Homo sapiens: one gene and its partner. The protein of the gene in region 1 purifies or fractionates together with the protein of each later gene. This does not show direct contact. Each region holds a gene or a part of one and is shown in the gene's direction. Other genes may lie near its edges.

Region 1 (3,500 bases):
GGTTTGCAAATGTTTTCTTCCATTCTATAGGTTGTCTCTTCACTCTGTTGATTGTTTCCTTGGCTGGGTAGAAGCTTTTTTAGTTTGTTGTTAATGCCTTTTGTCTATTTTTGCTTTTGTTGCCTGTGCTTTGGGGCTCAAATCCAAAAATGTATTGCCAAGACCAATGTCATGAAACTTTTCTTCTAGTTCTTGTACAGTTTCAGATCTTACATTTAAATCTTTAATCCATTTTGAGTTGATTTTTGTATGAGGCATGAGAAGAAGGCCTAATTTCATTCCCCTACACATGGATATCCAACTTTCCCAGCACCACTTTTTGAAGAGACAGACCTTTCACCATTGTGTTTTCTTCACACTTTTGTCAATAGTCAATTGAGTGTGAATGTGTGAGTTTATTGCTGGGCTCTCTGCTCTGATCCATTGGTCTATATATCTCTTTTTATGCCAGTGCCATGCCATTTTGATTACTTTGACACTGTAGTCAATGTTGAAATTAGGCAGTGTGGTGCTTCCATCTTTGTTCTTTTTTTTTTTTTTTTTAGATGCAGTCTTGCTCTGTCGCCAGTCTGGAGTGCAGTGGTGTGATCTCAGCTCACTGCAATCTCCACCTCCCGGGTTCAAGTGATTCCCCTGCCTCAGCCTCCCAAGTAGCTGGGACTACAGGTGTGCACCACCATGCCTGGCTAATTTTTTGTATTTTCAGTAGAGACAAGGTTTTACCATGTTGGCCAAGACGGTCTCGATTGCCTAACCTCGTGATCTGCTCGCTTCGGCCTCCCAAAGTGCTGGGATTACAGGCATGAGCCACCATGCCCGGCCCCATCTTTGTTCTTTTTGCTCAAGATTGCCTTGATGTAGCATATCACATTTGGAGATTTATGAATGTTATACCATCCTTGCATTCCTGAGATAAATCTCATGTGACCATGCTGAAACACACACAGAATTTTAAAGACTTTCTTTACTGTAAACTTCAACTCATTTTTTCAGTCTATATGAAATGCACATTGAAGAGATGTGTGGTTTTCCCTATTGCCCAGCCACTCTCCCTCCTTCCTACTTCTCTAATCTTACCACTGAAAGTCCTCCAATCTGTTAATAGAAGCAACAGATAAGCAAACTTCTCTCTTGGTAAAATGCATTTTCCCTCAAAGCAGAATTTCTGTGCATTTTTATCCTGAAATTCCCTCTTCCATGAAGGTAGAAATGAGGAAAAAAATGTGGGGATACAGGTGACACAGGTCTGCCTATATTACCTATAACTATAGTTATATTTATATCCATATCCATACCCTTATCCTTATCCTTGTCATCTAATGTCCACTGAAGCCTCCAAGCCTCAGAAATCTACTGAGCAATAACTTTACAATTTTTGAACGTTCACCATGTGGCAGACACTGTTGAAAATGCCTTACCTCTTTTACTTCATGTGATCATTATATACAAGGTAGATATTCTTGTCACCTTTCCTAACAGATAAGAAAACAGAAGCACAAAGTGCTCCAGGCTCACTCATTGGTAACTGGTAGAGCTACGATTTGAACTCAGGCACTCTGACTCTAGAGGTCACAGGTTTCACCATTACTCAAACACTTCCGGTCTTGATTCTATTCCATGAGATTTCTGCAGCTGCTGCTCTTGGGTGTGGAGTGGGCAATGTGGTGTGAAGGGAGATTGTGGTTTTCTTCTCTGGGCTCTTCTACTTTCTGTATGTTTGCAAACTGATTTTTTTTCACTAAGTCCTCTACATGGGAAACTCATTTTCTGTCAAATTCCACAGGAGCAAACCACCTAAAATAGAAGATTTCAGTCTTCGAGGGAAATGTCCCACTGAGCAATTCAAACATTACACACATATCTATTGGATACCTACTATGTGCCAGGATCTGACATAAAAACATGGGGTACTTTGGTAGAATAAAAGAGAAAAAGTAATTGCCCTTTTGTTGCTTACATCCACTGCAGAGAAAGACAGTAATCAATACACATGATAAATAGGTGAATGAAAAAATTAATTTTTGACAATGATAAGTGCAATAAAAATAAAGTATGAGTAGGTGAATGTTATCATCTTGTGAAAGTATTCATATATCCTTTTTATTGTTTTCATCGTAAATAGATGTACAAATTTACCAGATGCTTTTCTGCATCAAAATAGATGATCATGTGTTTTTTCTATTTATTCTATAAATAAATATTTGTAGAATACCATATTGTTTGTCTGTCATTTGTATATTGAAACATACTCATATTCCAGGAATAAATACCACTTGTTCATGGTTTATAATCCTTCTTACATGCTGTTCAATTCAGTTAGCTAGTATTTGGTTGAGGATTGTTGCATCAACAAATCCAGTAGTAATAAGGCCACTGTCAACAGAAAGGTGTGCAGCTGCACCTGACAAATTTTAATTTTGTGTTTCAGTAGAAGTTTAAGTTCCAGTGGGACCCATTTCAGATGAGCAGGGACTGGCCTGTGAGACAACCAGTGGTTAATGCTTGCAACAGGAAATATTCCCCCTAGATCTGGACCACAAGCCAGTAGATTCTAGTAGATAACCAGTCATTTTTTGTTAGAATGAAGTAAAGAACAAGGCAGAGAGGGGCTTTTTTGTTTTGTTTTATTTTTTGTTTTGCGTTAGAAGCCCTGGGGAAGTTTATGACCATCAGGAGTGGTCTAGAAATTCCAAGAGGAATGAAAATCATTGCCAAAGTCTCTAGAGAGAAGAGGTATTTTTGTTTGTTTGAAAGCACTAAAAGGAGTGCCTGTTGATTTTAATTTGCAAGTAAAATTTGTAAATGTAGAATACATTGCCACTGGCACCTCAAAACAACTCAGAGATGCTGGATTATGTGATATTATTATAAGTATCACATGAGTCTTCTTTGAAGAGGTTGCTATAACATCCTGTGCTCTTGAAGAAAGGCAGCTGTCATTATTGATATTGGAATAGGATACACATTTTAGGATAGAGAGTCTTGGCAGCACTCCAAAAGGCAACACATAGCTGTGCATAGCACAACACAAGAAAGGCATCAGGGCAAAAAAAAAACCTTCTCAAATTGTGGAGCCAATCAGTAGCAAATCCGTAAGCCATGAACAGTCAAAGTGCATCTCCTAGGAATTTGCTACCCCGGTTTAGAATAATCCCCTCCTCATTGCCATTAGTGTTGAAAATGGTAGAGTAAGTCCTGCAGGTTGTGTCTTAAAGGATCACTCTAACCTGGTCATGAGAATTTCATCTGGAGAGGCATAGCTGGGTAGGGCATGCCACACAGGAAGCCATATGGGAGGAGCTCCCAGGGAGTAGGCTCAACCAAGCAGATGGGGAAGCAAGAGAGATGAGAGATGAGAAGCCATTGCCTTTAATGGGAGTCAGGGTGGAGGACACCAAGAAAAAGCATGATGGGTTTTACTAGAACGTTTCAGTGTCACTAAGTCACAGAAGAGGAGGACAAGAAGAGGAATTATGGCAGGGACCAGCTTTATCACAGTG
Region 2 (3,500 bases), on another chromosome or scaffold:
TTATTTCTTTAAACTATATGTCATGTAACACAGTGGTATCACAGACACTGATTACTTTAATACTATTACTTTAATTACTAATTAAAATATATATATATATATATATATATATATATATATATCTGCCTGCCTAGGTACCTTTTTCAGCTGTTGCTAGCACCATTTCTCTGCTCTGATCTCCATCTTATCAAATTTCAATAGTAGTTTTTTATATTACTTAGCCTTTCAGTAGCATTTGACTTATTGATCACTTCTTTTTTCTTGAAATACTTTCTTTACTTGGCTTCTAGGACACCACTTGCCCCCAGCTTTCCTCCTACGTCAACTAGTCTTTGTTGTCTTCATTGTTCTTTGGTCTTCTTCCTGACCTGTGTAAATATTGCCAGTCCCTGAGCTTATGAGCTTATTACCCCTGGCCCTCTCCTCTGTCTACCCTCATCCCAAGGTGATACCCAATGTCATGACTTAAATAACATGTAGAAGTTGCTGACTTCTACATTTATATTCTCAACCTGGACCTTTCCTATAAGTCCCAGACTTTTCTGTCCAACCGCCTACTTGTCATCTCCACTTAAATGTCTAAAACATGTATCAGGCATCAATAGCCAGAGCCAATCTCTTGATTTCCGCTTACCCCTCAAAGTGCTTCTCTCCCAGTCTTCTTCATTTCAGGTAGATACCTCCATTCATCTAATTTATTCAAACAAAAACCTGAGAGTTACCCTTGATTCTTCTCTTTGCTTTGTACTCCACAGCCATCTCATTGTCGTATTTTCCTGGCTGTACATCCAGAATCTGACCACTCCTACCTAGAGAGCTGTAGTAGCCCTTTCAACTGGTCTTCCAGCTTCCGTGCTTGGCTCCGTTACATTTTGTTCTCCACACAGCAGCCAGACTGATGTTTTAAAACATAGATCACTCACTCTCTTGCTGAATCTCTCCAGTAACTTCCCATCTCAGTTAGCTAAACTCCAAATCCCTAATTGTGGCCTATTTTATAGCCCCTGCATGTTCTTGATCCTGCTTGTTTCTGTCATCCTCATCTGTCAGTTTCTGCTTGAGTCATTATACTCTGGAAACCCTGGCTTTTCTGCTGTTCCTCAAACACGTTAAGCTTGGGGGATTTTGGTGTACTGTTTTCACTGGGACACTCCAGATTTTCTCATGGGTTACTCCTTTATTCAACTCTGCTCAGATGTTAACTATTTTCCCTCACTATTTTTTAGTCTTTTTAAAAACTCTATTGCATTTTTCTGTATAATCTTTTTTAGAGCCTGGAATTATATGCGTATTTGTTTACTTTTTATCTTCCATACAAGAAGAAGCTCTTTGAGTGCAGAATTTGTCTTGTTTATGACTATATCCCTAGTGGCTAGAACAGTGCTTGGCACATAGCAAGCAGCCATTCAATATTAATTTAAAGAAAATAAAGAGTGTAATTGCCATAAAGGTTGTGTTTAAAAATATTATTTTTTTCTTTTAAAAGAATGTCCAACACTGGAATGAATTGCTATTGAGAGGCTTGGCAGTTTCCTTAAAAAGAAAAAGAAACCCAGAAAAGTCATATAACAGTTAATATTTTTCCAGGCAGTAGGAGATGGATTTCAGATGAAACGGCTGTATGGTCCTCTCCCTGAATTTGCACTCAGCTGCATTTTTCAGAACTGATTGCATGTAATTCTTAAATGGAGCACGTGATCTGCCACCTTTCTAGAATAAGGACTCATCGCACATCTGTATCAATGTAGTACATTCCTAGCCAGTCTTCGTGCCTTAATTCAGGTCTTCCTTGGCAGCATCCCTCTCTCTTCCAACCCTCCCCAGTCAGCTTTGCTGCAGATTGATATCCCTGAGGAAATAGGTAACATTTTATCCAAAATCTTTTTTGCAGATCCTTGAACTTGTAGTGTGCCCTTGCCCCTCTATGTCTACTTCTTACCATTTAGCACTTAGCATAGTTTATAATTCATTGTAAGTATAGGATTTTCCTTAACTAAATTGTAAAGACCATTTTTTTTGTATATCTGATTTCTTGTCTACCCATTGCAAAGGTAAGAAATTCATACTGGATGATTATGCCAACAATTCAGTCAGACTTTAGAAGATGTTAGTTGCTAGTAGTGAAAGGATTGTTGACTACATTTCAGTTTGCTGGTAGAAAAAAATACTTCGTTGTTGGAGCATTACTGATTAATATGCTGAATCAAGTTGTTTTAACTTTAAGCTCTTTTCAGCCTTAGATCTCACACTTACTGGGTTCAGTGGTGGGATGTTTAAGTCATGGATCCAGTGATCTGGCCCTCAAAGAGCTTCAGTCATGTAGGCTTCTCTATTCATGGGCTGGGTTGATGTAGAAGCAGCCCCGTCACTGCTAAATGCAGTTTGTGGTGGAGTAGAGAAGGCAGTGTAAAACCTAAGAATCAGTTTCTCTGGGGTTGTCACTAATGTGTGTGCTCATAATTTAATTAACACATGGTAATTTCCTAACTTCTAACTCCAGTGATGAATGCAGTCAGTAATAAGCACTGTTAAGCTAGTAATTTTCTTTGCAGTGTATCTTGGCCATTTTTATAAAAAATAGATTGAAATTGAAGATTCAGTGTGTTGCTAAGAGCATAATCTCTTTGAGATACCATGTTTTTGCTGAATTGGGATCTAAATTAGATGACAGTGCACATTCTTAAGATAGACATCATTTTCTTCCCAAACTGAACATTTTCCTTTCTTGCTAAATATGTGTGTGTGGGGGGGATATAGGCACTATATATTTCCAACTGAAATTGTAATCTCAGCTTCTGAGTTTGCCATCAGTTTTTATTATCTCCTTATTTTAGTTTAGAACTCCACATATACAAATGGGTATTTATCCTTTTTCCTCCTGTATTCTTCTTCTTGGAAAATGACATGATGGCTCCAACAAGTCATCCAAGCCCTAATTCTAGTAGGTGGTCATCTCTGTCTCTTCTCTTTCATGTTCCTTATAACTAGTCTGTTACTAAGTCCTGCCAATTCTACCTCAGAATACTCCCTTTCAGTCCCCCTACTGCTGCTCTGTTGAGCATTGAGGCTCTGCACTTACATCAGGCCCCATCTGCATCTCTATGTCCAGTGTTACTCCCCTCCAGATCATCTGCCAGGTTGCCACTAAAATGACTTAAAAAAAAAACGTAAATTTGATTGTTATTCCCATGCTTAAAATACTCTCCATTGCCTGCTTCAGAATAAAGTTCAAGTTCTTTAGCCTAATAACTAGGAAATGGTTTCTCTCGGATGCCTCATCTCCTACTACTTTCCCCCTTTGCAGCTTCTGTCTACTTTCTAAACTGGGATAAAGGAGAGAAAAAGTTTATTTTTCTTAAAGCCATGCTCAGTTCTGTCTAAATCAGAACAGGGTCACCATTGACACCACTCTCACCCTTGGTAATTCTTCATCTCTCCAGTGTGAATTGAGGAATCCTTTGAGTCTTATTATCAAGCCAGGGAACTTTATGAAGCAATCC

Evidence for each region.
Region 2: the proteins of SIRPG (region 1) and SPCS2 purify together in Homo sapiens (affinity purification with mass spectrometry, with the first as the bait; one large-scale study listed by BioGRID). This does not show direct contact.

What each region holds. Positions count from the first base shown.
Region 1 is NC_000020.11:1,651,280-1,654,779, reverse strand, and holds part of SIRPG (signal-regulatory protein gamma isoform 1 precursor), read left to right. Parts: intron 1-3,500. UniProt on the Homo sapiens protein: Probable immunoglobulin-like cell surface receptor. On binding with CD47, mediates cell-cell adhesion. Engagement on T-cells by CD47 on antigen-presenting cells results in enhanced antigen-specific T-cell proliferation and costimulates T-cell activation.
Region 2 is NC_000011.10:74,955,766-74,959,265, forward strand, and holds part of SPCS2 (signal peptidase complex subunit 2), read left to right. Parts: intron 1-3,500. UniProt on the Homo sapiens protein: Component of the signal peptidase complex (SPC) which catalyzes the cleavage of N-terminal signal sequences from nascent proteins as they are translocated into the lumen of the endoplasmic reticulum.